Homo sapiens: one gene and its partner. The protein of the gene in region 1 interacts with the protein of each later gene in a pairwise test. Each region holds a gene or a part of one and is shown on either strand. Other genes may lie near its edges.

Evidence for each region. Proteins that work in one complex are often made in the same cells at the same time.
Region 2: the proteins of PPIG (region 1) and CACNA1A interact in a two-hybrid assay, tested with the Homo sapiens proteins (one study listed by BioGRID and IntAct).

Annotation. Positions count from the first base shown.
Region 1 is NC_000002.12:169,600,544-169,606,005, reverse strand, and holds part of PPIG (peptidyl-prolyl cis-trans isomerase G), read right to left. Parts: intron 2,365-5,462; 5' UTR 2,312-2,364; intron 1,981-2,311; 5' UTR 1,965-1,980; coding exon 1,904-1,964; intron 1,820-1,903; coding exon 1,745-1,819; intron 1-1,744. UniProt on the Homo sapiens protein: PPIase that catalyzes the cis-trans isomerization of proline imidic peptide bonds in oligopeptides and may therefore assist protein folding. May be implicated in the folding, transport, and assembly of proteins.
Region 2 is NC_000019.10:13,498,990-13,504,337, forward strand, and holds part of CACNA1A (voltage-dependent P/Q-type calcium channel subunit alpha-1A), read right to left. Parts: intron 1-5,348.

The DNA of each region.
Region 1 (5,462 bases):
AAGGAAATCAAAGTAGTATGAAAGCAAAATAAATGTAAAATATGCCCCTCTTGAACCCTGCAGACTTAAAATCATATTTTCATTCCTTTCAGGAATTTTTTTTTAAAAATTCATTTAAAAAATCACCCACGTTATTTCTGGAGAATGTAGAAATCACTCTCAAATAATATACCTTTACAACTAATGTTTGGTTTTAGGTTTTTTTTTGAGACAGAGTCTAGCTCTGTCACCCAGGCTACAGTGCGGTGGCACGATCTTGGCTCACTGCAACCTGCGCCTCCTGGGTTCAAGTGATTCTCCTGCCTCAGCCTCCTGAGTGGCTGGGATTACAGGCACCTGTCACCACACCCGGCTAATTTTTTTTTTCGTAGAGACTGAATTTCACCATGTTGGCCAGGCTGGTCTCAAAATTCCTGACCTCAAGTGATCCACCCACCTCGGCCTCCCAAACTGCTGGGATTACAGGCATGGGCCACCACACTTGGCCTCTATTTTTTTAATTGAGACAGGATCTCACTCTTGTCGCCCAGGCTGGAGTGCAGTGGAGTGATCTTGGCTCACTGCCACCTCCGCCTCCTGGGCTCAAGCGAATCTCCCGCCTCATCCTCCAGAGTAGCTGGGACTACAGGCACACACCACCATACCCAGCTGATTTTTTGTTATTTATTTTTTTGAGACAGAGTTTCACTCTTGTTGCCCAGGCTGGAGAGCAATGGTGCGATCTTGGCTCACTGCAACCTCCATCTAGGGTTCAAGTGATTCTCCTGTCTGAGCCTCCCGAGTAGCTGGGATTACAGGCACCCACTACCACGCCTGGCTAATTTTTATTTTTTCAGTAGAGATGAGGTTTCACTATGTTTGCCAGGCTGGTCTCAAGCTCCTGACATCAGGTGATCTGCCTGCCTTGGCCTTCCAAAGTGCTGGGGTTACAGGCGTGAGCCACCACGCCTGGCCGATTATTTGCATTTTTAGTAGAGATGGGGTTTCACCATGTTGGACAGGATTGTCTTGAACTACTGACCTCAAGTGATCCACCCACCTCGGCCCCCCAAAGTGCTGGGATTACAGGTGTGAGCCACCATGCCCAGCCACACCGTGCCCAGCCATAATATTTCTTTCTTTTTTTTTTTTTAGATGGAGTCTCGCTCTTCTAGCTCAGGCTGGAGTGCAATGGCACGATCTCGGCTCACCGCAACCTCTGCCTCTCGGGTTCAAGTGATTCTCCTTCCTCAGCCTCCCAAATAGCTGGGACTACAGGCGTGCGCCACCACATTTGGCTAATTTTTGTATTTTTAGTAGAGATGGGGTTTCACCATCTTGGCCAGGCTCGTCTGGAACTCCTGACCTCGTGAGCCACCCCCCTCGGCCTCCCAGAGTGCTGGGATTACAGACATGAGCCACTGCGCCTGGCTGCCCAGCCATAATATTTCTAAGAATTACTTTCACGCCCTAGTCACTGCTGTGTAATCTTCATGTTAAGAGAAAAGTAATATGCATGGAGAAATCTAAAATAGAGTAAATAAAAAATTAAAGCAAGCTATGCCAGGTGTGGTAGCTCACACCTGTATCCCAGCTGAGGACGCTTATGTGTAAGGATTGATGAGCCCAGGAGTTCTAGTCCAGTTGGACAACGTTGCAAGATCCTGTCTCAAAAAAAAAAAAAAAAAAAAAAAAAAAACCAAGCAAGCAAGCAAGCCATAGTCAACTGAGACTACTATTAGGGCAGTTGAAAATGTGAACAAACCTGTACAAAGACAACGAAAGTTCTCGCATGTTTTGGGGCACACATCAGAAAATAATTCAAAGACAACTCTTCCAGCTGAAAAAGAAGGTAGTTGGTTAAACTTCTTTACTAATTTAAAATATTAAACACCCATTTATAAATGTCAACTAATATTCTTACCAGGTTGATTGTTAATGGCAATGTCAAAAAAACATCGAGGACGTTGAACCTTTATTCCCATGGCTCCAATACTTAATCTGTGAGTAAAATACAGTTTCAGACAAGCAGACTAAAATAGCAAAGATCTTTCACAAATTTCTGGAAAAAAAATTCTGTGAAACAATATTAGAAATATAGTTTGAATTTATTTTGATATTTATTTCTATGAGGTAAATCACATGGATTATTAGTGCTTTCTTTTTAGAGATTAGATTGCATTTTGTGAAGCAATTAGAAAAGACTTGAAAGTTAAGCCTTAACCATTATTATGTAATCAACTTTCTATTTATCAACCGGAATACAGATTAATAGCTCAAACAGAAAATTGTATTTACTCTGTATGATTAGTGAACTCAATAAGCAGATTACCTTCAAATGAAGAAAAGACCAAAAAAAAACAAGGACAACTGATCCCTGTGCTCCTAGAAAACAAAAATGAGAGTTCTGATTAAAATGTGAGATTTTTAAGAAGCAAAAATCATGTAAGAAGAAAAAGAATAGTATATAGTTAATATACTATTTAACTATTGTTAAATAGTATATAGTTAATATACTATTTAACTATTGTTAAATAGTATATGTGGTAGATTTACATTTTGAGTAAAAGCACATTCAATTTTACATATGAGGGTACTTGCTGATTCTGAGCAACAGCCTTTACTGATATGCTGGTATAGACACAAAAAATACCAAAGAGATACTCTGTGTAACAGCTTTATTTCCATAACAGAAAGCTATTATTTAACAGACATTATTTTGATAAGGCATTTTATTTTAAGGACTTAAAATGCTGAATCGTAATACTTGGTGGAAGATGATACTTACCCGTAGAAGAAACAAAGGCACTAAGTGTAAATAGTATCCAAAATGATGGACTCTAAAAATGACAGTTTCATATGCTATGTACGCTATGTTATATTTCAATAAAAATTTACTTTATTAAAAATAATTAATATATCTAAGACAAAACTCTTTATTCTTCTACCTCCATTCCCTTGAATACTCAGTAAACATTATCATTGTCCAAGCCAGCTGCTGAGGCTGAAAACCTGGGGGTCATCTTCGGTTCCACTTTCCCTCATACCTCATTATCCAAACCATTAGGAAGGTAATTTGGCTCTAGCTTCAAAAACTATCCCAAAAGTTCTCATTACCTTTACCATTATCATTTCTTATCTAGGCTATTCCAATAGCCTCCTAACTGGTTTCTCTTATTTTACTCTTAATTCTGTACTGCCTCTTCTGCACAAAATAGCCAGAGTGGAATGATTCTTTTAAAACACAAACCTTATCATATCCTTCCCCTGCCTAAAACTGTCTTACTATTCATCTGAAAAGTTTTAGCATGGATTTTAAGGCTCTAGACCAGCACTGCTCAATAAAAACATGAGCCACCCAGGTATAAAATTTTTCAGTAGCCACATTTTGACAAACAAAAACAGGCTAATTTTGGGCCGGGTGCGGTGGCTCACGCCTGTAATCCCAGCACTTTGGGGGGCTGAGGCGGGCGGATCAGGGTCAGGAGTTCGAGACCAGCCTGACCAACATAGTGAAACCCTATCTCTATTAAAAATGCAAAAATTAGCCGGCTGTGGTGGCGGGTGCCTGTAATCCCAGCTACTCAGGAGGCTGAGGCAGGAGAATTGCTTGAGCCCGGGAGGTAGAGGTTGCAGTGAGCCAAGACTGCACCACTGCACTCCAGCCTGGGGGACAGAGCGAGACTCAAACAATCAAACAAAAACCAGGCTAATTTTAATATATTCTATTTAACTCAGTATGTACAGATTGAATATCCTTTATAGGAAATGCTTGGGACCAGAAGTGTTTCAGATTTTTTTTTTGAATTTTGGAATATTATCATACACGAGATATCCTGGGGATGGGACACAGTTTAAACACAAAATTCATTTATATTTCAAACATACCTTATGCATACAGCCTGAATTGTATGTGTAATTTTATACAACTTAAAAAATAATTTTGTGCATGAAACAAAGTTTGTATTAAGTACTTATGTGTGAAATTTTCAATTGTGATGCTCAGAAAGTTTACATTTTGGACCTCAGATTTTCAGATTAGTGATGTTCAACTTGTACAACCAAACTATTACCACTTCAAAATATACTAAACAAAAATGTTACTGAGTTTTTTTTTTTTGTACAAGTCTTTGGAAATCCAGTGTATATTTTATCCTTGAAGCATATCTCAATGTAGACTAGCCACATTTCAAGTGCTCAAAAAGCACATGTGGCTTGTGGCTACTGTAATTTCAATTATACGGCTCTAAATATTTTAGCTCCTGTTCACCTCTAGGCATTTTCCTCAACTTTCATTTCCTAACATCTTCTAATATTTTCCTCAACTTTATTTCAGCTACATTGGTATCCTGCTTGTTCCCCCTGCCACCCAACAGCCTACTCTTTCATCAGGTCCTTTACATTTGCTGTTCTCTCCACCTGGAATGCTCTCAAACCATCTTCACATGGTTCATCCCTTTGTTGCTCAAGTATCACCTTCTTATAGAGGCCCATTCCTAGTCTACTGTATTCAAGAAAGGAGCTCTCATCCTCCTAACACTTTACATCCTCTTATTCTGCTTTATTTTTCTTCCAAGCATTTATTGCTAATTGATATTCAATTTTTATATCCATCTTCTCTCACTAGAATATAAGTTCCATGATGTGATAAACCTGAATTTTCAGTCTTATTCTTACTGCTCAAACAGTGCTTGGCATATGACAAGAAATCAGTGTTTATTAAATGAATGAATAAATGTGAGAGGATAGGCATAAGTGAGAATGTAAAATTGCAGTAACAACAACAAAAAAATGGAAACACTCAAAATATCTTACAATGGGGAGAAACTGAACAAATTACGGTATAAAATGCTATTTAATACTATATGGCAGTTTCATTGTAACACAAGCCAAGAAACCTACTGTTTAGTTCAAAAGAAACAAAAAAGTAAATTGTACATAAGTATTTCTTTTAACACCATAAAACAATACCCTATTTCTACAAAGAGAGATCTTGAAAATACTATATATACCAAACTCCTCACAGAATCTCTGCAAAAGGGACTGAGTCTAGGAATGGAAGTCATTGGGGGCCTTCAGCTTTACGTATAAGGTTTGAATTTTTGCAATAAGAATATGTTCATGTATTAGTTTTTCAACTTAAAATTCATAAAAGTTTAAAATGTATCTGCACAGTAAAACAAAATAGGAAATAAATGAAAATATTGAGTCTATCTCTAAGTAAATGAGTTATAGGTGATTTTTATTTTAGTTTTTGCATTTCCTAGGTTGTATACAGCAGACTTATGAAAGAAACTCAGGTAAGCATGTAATTTAAATCTTCAATTATATATTTTTTTCTTTTTTCTTATTTTTGTTTTTGTTTTTCAATGACATTTTTAAAGTGTCTCACTGTCATGATTACTACATCATGATTGAGCATCCTAAATCTGAAAACCCCAAATCTGAAATTTTCTGAGTGCCAAAAAGACACCCAAAGGAAA
Region 2 (5,348 bases), on another chromosome or scaffold:
TCGCCAGGAATGTTCCTTGTTTTTCCTATTTTTTTAGGGAGTGAGGAGAAAGAAGACCAAAGTTTGGAAGGGGAGGGGGGTACCTAAATTCTAAACCAAAAGTTGAGCAAAGTTTTTCTGTGGAGTTTGCAGTGGACACCTGGGGTGGCCATCCTGGGCTGCACTCTCGACCGGCCCCAAAGGAAGAGACAGGGAGTGCAAAAGGGGAAGAGGGAAGCTAATTATATACTTTAAAACTCCCTCACCTTGTCACCCACAGAGAGAGGGAGGGACCAAAGGAGGAAAGAGAATTAATTTTTACCTTAGACTCAAGGGAATAGAAAAATGGGTCAAGTGGCCACGAATTTTTTTTCCCCTGAAAGCTTCCAGAGAGAACGGAGAATGCAAAATGTCCAAAGGTGGCTTTAAAGAGCGCCACGATCAGGTTAATCAATCCACACTGACCAGTCGCAGGGGGTGGTGGGGGGGGGCACTTCGCTCCCATTCCCACCCAGAAAGCCTCTTTTCTGGCCGGTTTCCAAAAAAAGAACACTGGAACCTAAATGACTCCATAGTATTACGGCTCTGGCGTTTTGGGGTTTTTCTCTGTGCTGGAGACTGTGCTGGCCATTTTTCACGCACGACCCCATTTAATCTCCTGAGAGCCCTCCAAGGGAGATGCTACTAGAAGGAATATCCTCATCATGCATGTCAAGAAATAGGCTCTGGTGCCCAAGATAACATGGCTGGTGAATAATGTGAACCTGGGCCAGTCTGACCCAGAGTCCGGAGTGTTTTCCCTCTCCTCTCTGCCCTCTTTCAGAGCAGGCACCATCCCATCCGGCCCTTTTCTCAGGAGCTGAGCTGGCATTCTCGGAAATGCGTTACTGCACGGCTCTTAGGCTCTGATCATTTCTGGATGGAGTCCACCTTCCCGGCGGTGCTTTTTATTGCTGAGAAAGTGTATATGTGTGCTTGCTACTGGGGGGGAAACAGGGAGGGGGAAGCATAAGCCCTACGCACCCAACAGATGCCTCCCACTCCAAGTCCCTGAAGAAAGACTTCATTCTCAAGGGGCCGCTGCATCCAATCTACTCAAGCACTAACATTTCAGAAACTTTCATTGGTCTGATAATCTCATGGACAGTCTCTCAACCCCCTGCAACTAAAACCCATCAAAATCCTAAAACGTTGGCACAAGGGTAGATCAGATAGATGTTATACAATTTAGTTAATGGGTGAAGACAGGTACCTTTTCTCATTTGCTCAGCAAACGTTTATAGGACGCCTGCTTTGTCCCACACACTGGGGTTGCAGTGGTGAAGAACAGGGTAAAGATCATGGGTCTCACAGCCTCAGAGCTTGACTTTTTCCTGGGGAATGGTAGAACTACCAGGGAGGGGTGGAACCCCACCCAAGAGAACCCCTTCTTTCTCTCTCTCTAGTGCAGGCACATAGCTTTGAATGACATCCTTAATCTTTCTTATTTCTCTGACCGGGATTTAACACTATTACTTCCACTCCTTTCCATAGATCCACATCCTTAATCCTAAGCCATCGAGGCCAGACGTGCTTTGGAATTCAGAACTCAGGGCTTTTAGACGCATTGCAAAGATGGGAATGTAAAATGGTACAACCACTTAGGAAAACAGTTTGAGAGCCTCTTATAAAATTAAACATACACCTACCACACAACTCAGCAATCTCACTCCTGGGTTAATTTACCCAAGAGAAATGAAATGTATGAAATGAAATGTTCCCACTAAAACCCATAAGCCAATGTTTATAGCAGCTCTATTCATAATCATTGAAACTGGAAGCATCCCAATGTCCTTCGGCTGGGAAGCAAACTCTGGTCCATCCATATCATGGAATCCTGCTCAACACCAAAAAGGAAGGCGCTACTGTCACAGGCAACAGCATGAATGAATCTCAAAGTCTGAGTAAAAGAATCCACATTCAAAAGGCTATATACTGTGAAATTACATTTATATGACCTTCGGCAAAAGGCAAAGCTGTAGGGATGGAGAACAGATCAGTGGTTGAAGGGGCTGGAGAAGTGGGGTGCTGACTCAAGAGGGGCACTGTGGGGGTATTTTAGGGTTGATGAAACTGTCCCATATCTTGATTTGGGTGGTGGCCACAACTACATCCATTTGTCAAAGCTTGCAGACCAGTATGTCAAAAGGGTGAATTTTGCTACAAATAAATTATACATCAATAAATCTATTTTTTTTTTGAGACAGAGTCTCAAAAAAAAGTACAGTGGTGCAATCTCGGCTCACTGCAACCTCTGCCTCCCAGGTTCAAATGATTCTCCTGCCAGCCTCCCGAGTAGCTGGGATTATAGACGCACAATACCACGCCTGGCTAATTTTTGTATTTTTAGTAGAGACGGGGTTTCACCATGTTGGCCAGGCTGGTCTCGAACTCCTGACCTCATGATCCACCGGCCTCAGCCTCCCAAAGTGCTGGGATTATAGGCGTGAACCACCAGACCCGGCCCCTATAAACCTGATTTTTAAGGAAAAGAAAAATGATAACAAGATGTCTCTATGATCTAACCTGGATACTCCAACCCTAGCCCATGAACTTACCACATGGGGAATCCCTAGAAGCTAGCTAGAAAAGCAGAATCCCAGACCCCACCCAAATCCTGCTGGACCAGAACCATCCTGTTAACAAGACAACTTCCATACACCTGAAAGTTTGACAGGACTACAATGCAGACCTAACAGTCAGGAGCTGAAGCAGCACCTCATCATCAAGCACATCTAACATTTCTGCTGCAAAACATACTCAAATGCACACCAAGTAGAATGAATGAAAACTGTAAATTAAGACTTCAAACTGAAGTCAGTTCAGGTTAGGTTTTACCTCTATATGAGCTCGTCTTTTGGTTTTTGGAGCTTTTTGGATTGGGGAATTGTGGATAAGAAATTGCACCCTTTTTGAAAATACTCCCATTGGAAAAGCCGTGCTAAATTTTACTTCGCAGAATTTTGCTCCTCTGGAAATACCAGCCAAGCCGGTCTAGTACAAGGATCACGTAAGTGACACCATCCTGCCCTCTACGGCAGTACCTTCTAGAACATTCTATCTCTCAGGACAGGCCAAGAGTCTGATAACCTGCTCCCATGTCTCCCAGCGCTTCTCATGCAGAAAGTTTCTCTTTAGAGAGCTTTTCTTAAAAAAAAAAAAAAAAAAAAAAATGAGAGGAGTGCCAATCAGCCAATGTCCACAGATGTCAAAGTGATGTCACCTGATGTCAATGTGACTTTAGGTGTCTTGTTAAGATTTCTGCAAACCGGATGAAAAGCTGGAATTCTACGTGTAATTCAGGCAACTGTGCGTGATAATACACTGACCTGCTTCCAGTGTTCCTCCGATGGCCTGAGTTTCTACATCATGTTCAGTGGGAGACCTGGTGGCACAGGGAGGGCTGGAAAGATGACATTCACCTTGGCACTTGGTAGAAGGAGTGAGTGGCATTAAGTGGGGAGGGAACTCTAGGAAGGCTGACAGATGCTCCTTTTTGAGCTGACAGATCTGAGCTCTTCGGCAATCATCAGAGACCCTCATGGCCCTATTTGAATCACAATTCCAGTCAATGAAAACATGAAACCAAGGTGTGTGGTCAAGACGGCTTGCTGCCTGGCATGAGAAAAACACGGCAATGTAAATTTGAACATCAAAGACTTCCATTTGGGTTTCCTCACTTAGGAAGAGGGGAAAAAATGAAATAAATGAGGATTCTTAATTGTCATTGATGGCTTCAAGTTTGACCCACTGAGGGATGAAAGAGGAAGAAATCATAGTGACAAATTGCCCCGAGTGTGGAGAAAGCAAGACTGCATCCTTCACCAGTGTACCATGCCAGAATTTACATTTGGAAGTAGCACTCTTAGGCCCTGTGAGCATACCGACAAGTTCATGGATCATTCACTCACTTCTCTTAAACAAGACAGGGAGGAACCTGCTTTCCATATCGACCTGCAACCCTTAGTCAACACCATTTCCAAATACACATCCCACAACACATGCATCAAAAAGTAGCAGGGGCGATTCCACTCCTATCTAAGAGAACTGTGGGAAAAAAATAATAGAAGACACAAGAATGTTCCCAGTGGCACAAACAGAAATGACACAAATGCCCATCAACAGTAGAATGGATAGATTGTAGTAGAGTCACATACACAGATGTGAGCAAAAGAAGCCAGTGGCAAAAGAACGTACTGTGTGACTCCATTTACATGTTTAAAAGAGGCAAAATGAACCTTAGAAGTCAGGTGAGCGGTACCCTTGTTGGGGGAGCAACTAGGAGGCGGTATGGGGAGGGGGACTTCCAGGGCACTGATCGGGACCTGGGTGCTGGATACGTGGGTGTGTTCATTTTGTAAAAATCTATGCATCTGAATATATGTACTTGCCTGTACATATATTAGACTTTATTTAAGTACCTACACACTTTTTTTTTCACTCTCAGGATATGCTGAAACATTTTTTTTTAATGGCAGAAATATTTAGATTAAAAAGTAGAATGTTCTGCCCTGGTATCGTGACTCTGACATTCCACGTGTCTTTCTCTTTACACTGGCCTGAATTCTTTTATTCACTACCTCCCTCCCCAGGTCTCTGTCCATCCCCTCTCATCTCCAACCCTCCCACCCACCCCGCCACCGCCCTCCGCTCCATCCAGGACAGAGAAAGCTCAGTCCTGGATGACCCAGCTCGATGACAGATTGTGAGGTGGGGAGTTTTCCCTTCCAGAGTAGGGCTGTATAATGTGTTTGTTACCTCGGGTCAAAGAGAACAAAAACAGTCTGCAGAGAGCATAATGCACAAACTCATCATAAGAGCAAGAAAGCCCCGGGCGAGCTGGCCAGAGAATAGATGAAGTGGCAAGCAACACTCGCAATTCACCTGCCTCCCTCTCCCACGATTCCCCCTTCCGAGGGGCCACTGCAATCCCCCTCTCCCCCAACAGCCCTCCAATCTGCAGGATTCAGGCTGGACAGAGGTAAGCTAAGGACACAGCAGAAGGGCTCCCCACCTCCTTCCTTTCCTCTTAGAAGTCTCCAAATCCAGGCTCCAGAAGGCGATCTAAAGCCATTTTCAATGAGGAAACCTGTCAGCCGAGCAAAGCCCTCTCACTCCTGGAGCTAACTGGGTGTGCACCCATGAATACCCTGTCCTCCTGCAAGGCACTCCCACTCCTCACTCTGTTGATAGGCAGAGTAATCAAGCCACCCCTGAGCACTTCAATGGGCCTGGGATGGTGAGGAATTGCTAACCTTAAGAACCAGCCTCTTTAAGAGTCTGAAACTTAGGAAGCAAAGACCTGGCACCTGCTTTGGGCACCAACGGAG